2 separate regions of the Homo sapiens genome follow, and region 2 is linked to region 1. Evidence: fine-mapped expression QTL. A gene starts in region 1. The other region holds a variant in brackets. All regions are shown on one strand. Distances are from middle to middle.

Region 1 (5,365 bases):
TGAGGTGGCCAACAAGTCTCCCTGAGAAGATGCCATTTGAGAACATTCCTGAAGGAGGGAGGGAGGGAGGGAGCCATGTGGGTCAGAAGCATTCCAGGCAGATGGAGCTGCTGGTGCAGAGGCTCTGAGGCAATAGGAATGAAGCCAGAGAGGGCCTTATGGCGGTGGGAGGACTCTGTTCCTCTGAGGAAGGCGGGCTGCTGGAGGGACTCTGCACCTCCTAACTGAATCACTCGGGCCACTGGGTTGAGAACAGCCTGTGGTGGGAACATGGCAGAAGCTGGGAGACAGCCCCACAGCCTCTGTGTTCTCCCCACAGTACTCCCATTCACCACCTTCTTGTGGATCTGCGGGTGGTTCGTCCGCACCTTCCGCTTTGTGCCCACGGCCACCTCCTCCTCCTGACCTTCACCGTCACCAATCTGAATTACCCCAACAACCTCTGCTTTGGGGACAGAGTTCAACAGCCCTGTGAAGAGCCTGCCTTTCCACTTGACTCCAAGTTACTTGATAAGACCCAGAACTAGAATAGAGACTTGCCCAATCAATGTTTAAACCAACGAAGCTTTTAGGTGTTGTTTCTCCCATCCAAAAATTTCCCTTCAAACCCCTAAGGGAAGGGGTAAAGGAAGGAAAATTTCATGGGTCCCCTGCTGCAGCTCTGCCTGGGACAGCTGGCCCATGGGTCTGGCTGGGACTGGACCTGGGGACCAGGGTGGGTAAATAAATGTCAGATGTGTGCAAGAGGAATCTGCAGCCAGCAAGCCCTGTTGGGCCCCTGGCTCCCCTGCTCCTCTGAGTCAAGCCCCTTTATTATAAAGGGGATACCTTTATAATGCTTTGCAAATTGGCAGGATGAACACCTGCAATGCCACACCACTGTCTCCCCACCCCACTCCGCCCAACCATCCTCCTGATCCAGACTGCACTGACCTTTTTCTGAGGGAAAGGACATCTAAAGCCATGCCATCCAGTAAGGACACAGCCACATGACAGATGTGGTGCCTGGGCATTTGCAGTGTGGCTGGGATAAATGAGATGCTCTGTAAGTATAAAATAATACCTACCAAATTTTCAAGACTTTTGGTTCACGCCTGTAATCTCAGCACTTTGGGAAGCCAAGGCAGGAGGATCGCTTGAACCCAGGAGTTTGAGAACAGCCTGGACAACATAGCGAGACCCCCATCTCTATTTTTAAAAATAAAAATAAAATACCCTGTACAAAATAAAACTGTAAAATAGCTCATCAATAACATATATAAAAATGTGTTTTGGAATTAAAATGTATTAATTTAAATGTATTAATCTCATGGGTTTCTTTTTCATTTTTGAATGCAGCTATTAGAAAAGTTTATATATGTAGCTCACGCTATATTTCTTTTTTCTTCCCCGTGCCCCAGCCCCCGCCCGCAGACGGAGCCTTGCTCTGTCACCCAGGTTGGAGTGCGATGGCACAATCTCGCCTCACTGAACCTCTGCCTCCCAAGTTCAAGCAATTTTCCTGCCTCAGCCTCCTGAGTAGCTGGGATTACAGGGGCCTGCCACCATGCCTGGCTAATTTTTGTATTTTTAGTAGAGACGAGGTTTCACCACGTTGGCCAGGCTGCTCTTGAACTCCTGACCTCGTGATCCGCCCACCTCAGCCTCCCAAAGTGCTGGGATTACAGGCGTGAGGCACCATGCCCGGCGGCTCAGGCTATATTTCTAGCGGACAGGGCTGTTCTAGAATTATGACTGGCCTCCAGTCATCTCCGCAGAACAAAGCAAAGAGATGCGAAAGCAGGTCGAGCACCATTATTTTGTGAACTGATAATAACAAGATAAGGGTGATCTTGTTTTTCTTTTCTAGTTCATACACATCAGGAGGAGAAAGCAAGAGACATCACAGGGGCTGATCCAGGAGATGAGGGACAGCCTACAACAGCTCCAGCCAGCCTGCCCTTCACCAGTCCGGAGGGTGGTGTGTGTGTGGTGCCAGATTTGCCTATTAGAAGCTCCCACCATGTCCCTATTAAACTTTAGAACCCTCCATGGGCCCCTTACACAGCCCAAGTGCCTCACTATGGGCCTTCAAGACCCTGAACAGCCTGAGCCAAACTTGTCTTTCCAGCTTCCTCTCACATGCTTCCTGCTCAAAACCCCCACAGCTGTCAGTTCATGCTATCATTTAGTCTGCTAATCAATCATTCAACAAATATGTATTGATTACGTCCTACATACTAGCTACTGAGGTCATGATGATTAGCAAAAGAGGCACTGTCCGTCTGCTTGCTGGGGACCACACATCTAGCAGGGAATGACAGGTAAATACATAATAGGCAATTAAGCATATTGCAGTAAGAGTAGTTGTTGGGGAAGCACAGGGGCCATGGGTGCACCAAAGAGGCACCTCTAAACCAGCCTGCAAGTCAGGGAAGGCTTCCTGGAGGAGGTGGCATCTCAGTTGAAGAATGCAAGTTGCCCAGACTGAGGCTGGGGAGTGGCAAATATCCCAGGCAAGGGAGAACTCTTGAGTTCAAAAACTGGAAGGGCAGAGAGGAGGGCAGGGTGCCAGTGGCAAATGACTGGCCTGGTGTATATGGCAGGGGCTTTATGAGCCTTGTGAAGGAGTGTGGCATTTCTTCTGAAGTGTTTATTCTGGGAGTTCCTGTCTCCTGCCTGAAAGGCCTTCACCCCTCCTCCCTGTTCACTCAAATCCTGCTTCCCCAGTAGGATCCAGTCTGTGGGGCTCATTTGAGGGAGAATGAGCACGGGGCTTTTGGAGGCTGCAGCCTAGGGCCAAGGGATGGAGGTACTGGGGCTGTGTTTGGGGGTCCGCTGATGTTGGAATTTGGGGCTAAAGCTGGGTTTGAGGTTGGCGTTGGGTTTGGGGGCTGGATTCAGGAACAGGAGTCGAGGTTCGGGCTGAGCGTGAGGTTGGGATCTAGGACCTTAGTCCAGAATTTGAGTTGGAGTTAGGAGTTGGGGGCTGAGGTTTCTAGCCAGATTAGGGGTTGGATTTGGAGTTGGGACTGGAATTGAATTTGGAAATGGGGCTGGGGGTTGGGGCTGAGATGTGACGCAGGAGCTGGGGCAGGGGTGGAAGCTGGGAGTTCTAGCTAGGGTTTGCAGCTGCAGCTAGAGTTAGGGGTTGGTTTTGAAGCTGGAGCTAAAGCTAAATCGGGGTCGGAGCTGTGGAATGGGTTGGCGCCCAGGCTCTGGGGCAGATAGACGACATTCCTCCTGCTGCCCAGGTCTGCGAATTGTGTTCCGAGCCCTAACTGCAGCGGACAGAAGCCCCTCCCTTCACAGGAATGCCTCAGCCCAGCAGAAGGAGCAGTGCCACGTCAGCCAATCGGCTCAGGCCCTGCCCTGGAAACGACACCTGTTCATCCTCCTCCCGGCAGGCTCACCTGAGTGCAGGTTAGGCAGGTGAAGTGTCTCCCCGGAAACCAAGCTAGAGTGCCCCACCTGCTCGGCCCTGCCTTCTCGGATCGGATCCAGCACATCCAGGCTTCTCGTGAGTTCCCCCATTGTCCCCCAACGCCCCACCGCCCCCATGTTCTCCCACTCGCTTCTCCCCTGAGAACCTCCACCCCGCCCCCAGCCTGACACCCGTTGTCTCAGCACACCTGTGCAAGCATTTTCAGACCAACGAAGTCACAGCCCAGGGGAATGCTGGGACTGACTCCACGGCCACGCCCACCTCCCCCACTTCCTTGAGAGCATCGGCACCAGCCCCCGCCCACCTCGGGGGTAGGGGTCAGCCTCTGCAGAGGAGTCTCCGGGAGGACAGATACCTCGTCAGGATGTAACCTGTGCACGGCCACATAGTAATATTCCCAGAATGACCCAGGACCTACGTCTTCTGCCCTGTCCTGCCTTGGAGGGGTAACATCGTTTTCATGTATTCAAAAAGCACGCTTTGAGCATCTATGCAGGCTCTAGGCCCCACTGGAATTCTGAAACGAAGATGTCAGGTGACTCATCCCCACCCCTCAAGATAAATGTTATTGTCTTCACTTTTCAGACAAGGAGACTGAGGCTCTAAGAGACGAACCATTCAGGCTTCCTGGCCCCTCCCCCAGACCCCTCTCCTGGGCTCTGCAGGGCTCTGGGCTGACTAACCCACACCCACACTTAGCACAGGCACTGGCCTGCTTGCTTCTGTCTCTGTCTTCTGCTGCAGACTGGGGCTCCTTGAAGGCAGGGACCTCATGTGCTTTATTTTTGCCCAATGTGAGACATGCTTTCCTCTGGAGGACAGGTTAAATCAGCAGCCACTGTTAGGTGCCTGGCCATGTTCCTACCGGTGGGAAGGACTGGAGCTGGGGTTCAAATCCAGAGCCCTCCTTTTTCCTTTGCTCCACTTTAGAGAAATCGTGGAGGAGGATGGCATGGGGGAATGGCGAGTGTGGAGAAGAGCAAGGGGAGCAGAAAGACCAGTGAGGAGGTGGAGGCGGGAGCCAAGGATACGAGAGCAGGGAACTGGCTAGAGAAATGTTTAGAGGTGGAGCCCCAGGGACAGGACGTGGATTAGATACAGCAGAGGGAGGAGGAGCTGGCTGAGAGGGCAGTGATGCCATGCCTGAAGTGAGGAACGCAGAAGGAACAGGTTGGAGTAAGACAACGAGCTTGGGTTGGGACCTGTTGCATCACAGGGACATCAAGGTGACAATTGACTCAGGACGGAGATGTAGGTTGGAGAGAGGAATTTGGGAACTGGCAGCTTATATTACCAAACTCATGGCTGTGAGATTGGATGGGATGTTAGGGGAGGGAGGGTGTTAGGGGTCTGGTCCTAACCCACAGAGAAGGAGGAGACACAGCCCTAAAAGAGAAGTGTCAAGGTCAGTCAGGCTTCTGGTTCCAGAAGGGTTAAGTCATAAGCGCCCCCTCCATCCCCACAGCTCCTCCCGAGGAACCAGTGGTGACAGCTGAGGCCATGTGAGTAGGATCCTGAATGAGGCTTTATCTCTGGCTGTTCGTCCCATCGTCCACCGTGGCACCAGCTCCCTCAGCCAGCCGGGATGGGACCAGCGACTGAGAGAGCCAGAGGCAGAGAGGTCAGGGCCTGGGTGAGGGGATTCCCTGGAGGGTTTTAGGGGGTACCCTATGGGCAGGGTACTCCCCTGGGGTCATTGGAGAGCCATTCCCAAGGGACAGTACTGCAGAGGGGGCTATCCCAGGGGAGATTCGGGGGAACACTGGGGTGGATTCTCAGGGATCATCCCCAAGGCTCCCAGGTGGGACCGTGGGGGACAGGTGGGCTGGGAAGGTAAGACTGTGATCCTTCCCCTACAGGTGAGGGTGACCATATCCTGGACTGTGAGAGGAATGGGACTCTGGGCCTGTAGCTGCCAAGCAGGTGGCAGGTGCTCCAGGC
Region 2 (5,365 bases), 36 kb after region 1:
GATTTGGGAAAAGCTGATGGAAATGCAGGTCCAAGCTGAAAGACCGTTCCCGAGTTACTGACTCAGAGGTGATGGTTAAAACTGGGGGAGTGGGCGAGCTTGCTCAAAGAAGCCAGTAGAATAATTACCATGATCCTCCTCTGTAACTGGAAAGAATATCCACTTCACTGGTTGTGAGGATCCAGTGGAAAATGGGGGTTGGTATGTGGTGGGCGGTCAGTAAATGCCAGCTTCGTTTGCTCATGGTAGCCTTTCAAACACTGATAAGCTAGGTGGCATTTAAACTAATGAACTGCTTGACAGTCAGCTACAAGAGACAGAGAAGGAAGGGCTTGGCTGGTGGAGGGGTTCTGGGTCCTGGAGCTAAGGCAGGCTCGCAGGCTCTCCACCGTCCAGACTGGACTCTGACTCCACCTGATCTCTCCTGCCTCAGCCTCACATTTTGTACTCCAGTCACACAAACCTGGAGAGCCCCCTCCACCTGCCACAATATTGCCACTGCAGGCCTCTGTCCAGGCTGTTCCCTCTGTCTAGGATGCCCTCTCCCTGCCCCTGATTTCTCTCCCTCCCCATTGTCCTCACGCCAATGTGCCCTGCTCCAACTGTACCTCCCAGGAAGCATCTCTTCATCTCCCTGAGCTCCCCCAGGCTGGAGCAGGGGTCCCTTCTCTGTGCTCAAAAGCACAGCGCCCTACATTTGGCAGCTGTGTTCATGCCTGTTCCTCCAACTAGGGCGTGAGCTCTTTGGAAGGCAAACAAAGACCAAGACCTACCTCGTGTCTGTGTCTGTCTGGGCTCCAGGCCTTGCCCTGGGGCTGCCCTCCCTGGCTCTGGGCCCAGCCCCAAGCTTAGCTCCATTTCTTTTTGTTTTTCTTTTTCTGGAGAATGGGGTCTTGCTATGTTGCCCTGGCTGATCTCAAACTCCTGTGCTCAAAGGATCCTCCCACCTCTGCCTCCTTAAGTGCTGGGATTCCAGGCGTGAGCCACCGCACCCAGCCCTAGCTCCATTTCTGTGCCACAACCTTCTGGCTGCAAAACTCAGCCTCTCCCACCTCAAATCCCAGCCCACCAGACATTTCTAGATCTCCATAGTGACAGAGAGGGGGACCCATGGGACACTTCTGTTCTGGCTGGCTCTCCTGGCCTGCACTCTCGTGGTGGAGGCAGGGAGAAGTGGCTCACAGCAACCTTTGCAGGGCAGTTTTAGAGACGAGTGGGGAAACAGGACTGATAGAAATAAAGTGAGGAAACGGAGACAGGGAGCATAGATCATTCTTTCCGAAAGCTGGGGCGAAAGGGAAGCCATCTGGCAGGAGAAGGGAGGGGACACGGCCAGAGAAGGATTCGTGGTTTTGTTTTTGTTCTTTTAGAATGAAGAGACTTGAGGGAAAGAGGCCAGTGCGCATGGAAGGGGAAAGGAGGGGGATGGGAATGCCTGATAAAGTGAGGCCTGTGGGGTCTGAAGAACCGGGCAGGGGAAGGAAGAGGGGTGAAGGTTGGAGACCCTCTTCTGAGTGGACGGTGGATCAGTAAGACCAGAGGGCTGGGGCTGGGGGCTCTGGGGCACTAGGGTTGGCTGGGACTACAATAGAGTCACTGGTGTCCTGGCCCCAGGCGCGGCGGTGGACCTGACGCTGCTGGCCAACCTGCGGCTCACGGACCCCCAGCGCTTCTTCCTGACTTGCGTGTCTGGGGAGGCCGGGGCGGGGAGGGGCTCGGACGCCTGGGGCCCGCCCCTGCTGCTGGAGAAGGACGACCGTATCGTGCGCACCCCGCCCGGGCCACCCCTGCGCCTGGCGCGCAACGGTTCGCACCAGGTCACGCTTCGCGGCTTCTCCAAGCCCTCGGACCTCGTGGGCGTCTTCTCCTGCGTGGGCGGTGCTGGGGCGCGGCGCACGCGCGTCATCTACGTGCACAACAGCCCTGGAGGTGAGTTAGGCAGGCGGGGGGATGGCGCGGGGAAAACCAGGCCGCTGACCCACCTTCCACCCCGCAGCCCACCTGCTTCCAGACAAGGTCACACACACTGTGAACAAAGGTGACACCGCTGTACTTTCTGCACGTGTGCACAAGGAGAAGCAGACAGACGTGATCTGGAAGAGCAACGGTAAAGAGGGGCATTTGAACTGGTGGGGAGGGTAGACCCATCGTTCTGAGGCCCCAACACTTTCATGACCCATGGGACCCTCAGCTTTGGCCCCTGACACACCCGACCTCCAGGGCCTCTCCTCTGTAGTGGACCAGGTCCCATGGGATGTGCCTGCACCCATCTTATCTGTAGTTCTGAGCTGCCTTCCTTCTGTACACAGAGGGCCAGGAGCCTGTGGTCAGCTGCCCCTTC[C/G]CTCTTAGCCCCAAATGAGCACGATGTTAAACCCTCATCTCTCCCCTGGGAGTTAGCAGGTGCTGTCACATAGCCCACCTGGCAGACCGCATCAGTCCCCCTGAGGAGGAAGAGAACTGGTAACATCATGCCCAACACAGGCAGGGCAGAGTCTAGCCTCTCCCAAAGATCTGTCCAGCCCAGATCCTTGATGCCCAAGACAGCCTCATGCTGAGGCCTGGGTAGACCCGTGGGATCTCAGTCCCAGGCCTGTCCTCCACCCTGACCCTTTGGCCACCCCATAGAAGGAAGCTGTTTTCCTATGTGGCCCCAAGATTCCTGCCTCAGTCCTCAGATTCACAACCCCTTGGCTGACTCTTGCATACCTGGGCTCCTGAGGGAGGAAGACCCTTCCCTTTGGCCAAGGGGGCTGCCTCCTGAGCTCTGGACCCCGTGAATTGACAGGAAATGTGAAGAGGCACAGGCAGACCTGGGTCTCTAGGCTCTCTGTTCAGCCCTGAGCAAAGAGGCAAGAAGCGGGTGGGGCAGCGACTGGAGCACTCTTCTAAGAGGGAGAGGCTCAGGGGAGAGACCCTAGAGTAGATGGCACTTGAATTGTGCTCAGAGGAGAAGTGGGAAGACAAAGAAGGCAGAAAAGGAAGGAAGGGCCTTCCAGGAGGAGGGACTGAGAAGAGCAGTAGGGTCTGAAACACAAGGGTGTTTCTAGAAGAGAAACAATCCATTCAGGAATTCAGGAATGTTAGGAGTCAAGAAGGGTGTGAAGACGAATGGGGCTGGATGGCTTGGCCACGGCCAAGTTGGTGAAAATGATGTCTAAGGAGCTGGATTTTTGTCCTGAGGTCACTGGAGAACCAGGAGAGTTTCAGCAGAGGAGTTAGAGAGGAGTCTGTTGTAAAAAATCACCCTGGCTGCTGGGTGGAGGAGGGACAAGAAAGGGTGACACTGGAGGCAGAGGAGCCTTGTGAGGCCCCTGGAGGCTAGGACCAGGGCAGTGGCAGTGGGTGTGGGGAGAAGCGGACTGGGTTAGGGGATGAGGAGGAGATGGACTGAGCAGGACTTGGTGATTTACTGGGTGGCTGGTGGAGCATGAAGAAGAGGGCACTTCTGAGCTTTCTGGCGTGGGCATAGGCTCTCGTGGTGCCGGCCCTAGGTCTCATCACTGTGCATGGGGCTCATTGATGTGAGCTGAGCAGAGGTGGACAGAGAGAGGTGACACAGCCCTCATGTAGTGCTGAGGCCCCTGACACATTCATGTCCCCCAGGATCCTACTTCTACACCCTGGACTGGCATGAAGCCCAGGATGGGCGGTTCCTGCTGCAGCTCCCAAATGTGCAGCCACCATCGAGCGGCATCTACAGTGCCACTTACCTGGAAGCCAGCCCCCTGGGCAGCGCCTTCTTTCGGCTCATCGTGCGGGGTCAGAGGCAGAGGGCAGAGGTTGTGGGTAGGGTGGGAGGCTGGGAGCCCTATGGGTACTTCCTGTGGGTCCCCTGGAGCCCCTGGATCTCCAGTCCTCAGTGGTCAGGTGGGTGAGGGTCAGCTGCTGAAGACACCTTCCTCCAGGTTGTGGGGCTGGGCGCTGGGGGCCAGGCTGTACCAAGGAGTGCCCAGGTTGCCTACATGGAGGTGTCTGCCACGACCATGACGGCGAATGTGTATGCCCCCCTGGCTTCACTGGCACCCGCTGTGAACAGGGTAAGGAGGAGGGGAGCTAGGACCCAGGCAGGAGAGGATCCCTGACTGGGAGAAGACCCTAGAACCATGTGGGTGGAGCTTGGAGGGTAAGGGCGACAGGCAGGTCCTGGGCCCAGGGGCCCACAGAGGCCCATACACCCCACACACTCTCTTTCTAGCCTGCAGAGAGGGCCGTTTTGGGCAGAGCTGCCAGGAGCAGTGCCCAGGCATATCAGGCTGCCGGGGCCTCACCTTCTGCCTCCCAGACCCCTATGGCTGCTCTTGTGGATCTGGCTGGAGAGGAAGCCAGTGCCAAGAAGGTATGCCTAACCTACCCTCATGGTCCCTGACCAAGACAGCTGGCCAGGAGCTTGACCCGGACCCTCCACTCTGCCTCTGACTTACGCAGCAAGCCCTCCTGCTCACTTGACCAGTCCTTCTATCCTCAGCCTGTTGTATAACCTGTGCCCCATCTGCGCCCTCATCTGTGCCCTCATTGCCCCCTGTCCCATGCCCCTCTAATCATACCTCCTCTATTCCCAGCTTGTGCCCCTGGTCATTTTGGGGCTGATTGCCGACTCCAGTGCCAGTGTCAGAATGGTGGCACTTGTGACCGGTTCAGTGGTTGTGTCTGCCCCTCTGGGTGGCATGGAGTGCACTGTGAGAAGTCAGGTATAAGCACTATGACCTCTGAGAGCCCCCCAAGATAAGTCGGCCTTTACCAAACACATCTCCCCGGTGGAAGAGAGTAGTCCCTCCTTTCCCTACGAGGGTCCAAGTCCTGCCCTCAGGGAGCTTAGAGTCTGATGGACAGGGAGCTCTGGCAGGGAGTCAGTCTGGTAGGGAGTCAGTCCAGCAGGGAGCCAGTCCAGCAAGGAGCTCACTGCCAGCCAGCCATAGTGGAAAGGGCAGCAGCCCAGAGAATGTGGGAGCCCAGAGGATGCCCCTGGGCAGACTGAGCAGGTCAGAGAAGGGTCTGGAAGCAGGTGTGATCTGAGATTAGATATGAAGGACAAAAGAGAGATAACTGAGGAAAGAACAAGAGCAAAGACCCAGGGATTGGGGACTCAGGTTTGGGTGCCAGGACAGTGGAGTAGGGGACCCAGGGATTGGGGACTCAGGTTTGGGTGCCAGGACAGTGGAGTAGGGGACCCAGGGATTGGGGACTCAGGTTTGGGTGCCAGGACAGTGGGGTAGGGGACCCAGGGATTGGGGACTCAGGTTTGGGTACCAGGACAGTGGAGTGGGGGACTGGGGAAATGGTCAGAAGAGGTCAAATCGTGGGGCCTTTGAATGAAGGCCAAAGAGTTTGCACTTCATATGATGGGGCAAGAGGGAATTGTTAAAAA

The links. PIP is the estimated chance that this variant, and not a neighbour inherited with it, causes the effect.
Region 2: its variant is the best candidate, but not a certain one, in a credible set for the expression of TMEM125 in tibial nerve (GTEx, PIP 0.71).

Annotation. Positions count from the first base shown.
Region 1 is chr1:43,267,295-43,272,659 of GRCh38, forward strand. TMEM125 (transmembrane protein 125) reads left to right here and starts at 2,689. Exons shown (of 4, transcript NM_144626.3): 1 at 2,689-2,791; 2 at 3,387-3,499; 3 at 4,890-5,045; 4 at 5,284-5,365. RefSeq lists an enhancer at 2,320-2,823.
Region 2 is chr1:43,303,237-43,308,601 of GRCh38, forward strand. It overlaps TIE1 (tyrosine kinase with immunoglobulin like and EGF like domains 1), which reads left to right. Exons shown (of 23, transcript NM_005424.5): 2 at 1,615-1,929; 3 at 1,997-2,107; 4 at 3,604-3,759; 5 at 3,906-4,037; 6 at 4,196-4,336; 7 at 4,560-4,688. Among named protein-coding and RNA genes, the nearest start is that of TIE1, 4.9 kb to the left of the region's middle. The variant C/G (reference allele first, on the strand shown) is at 2,342.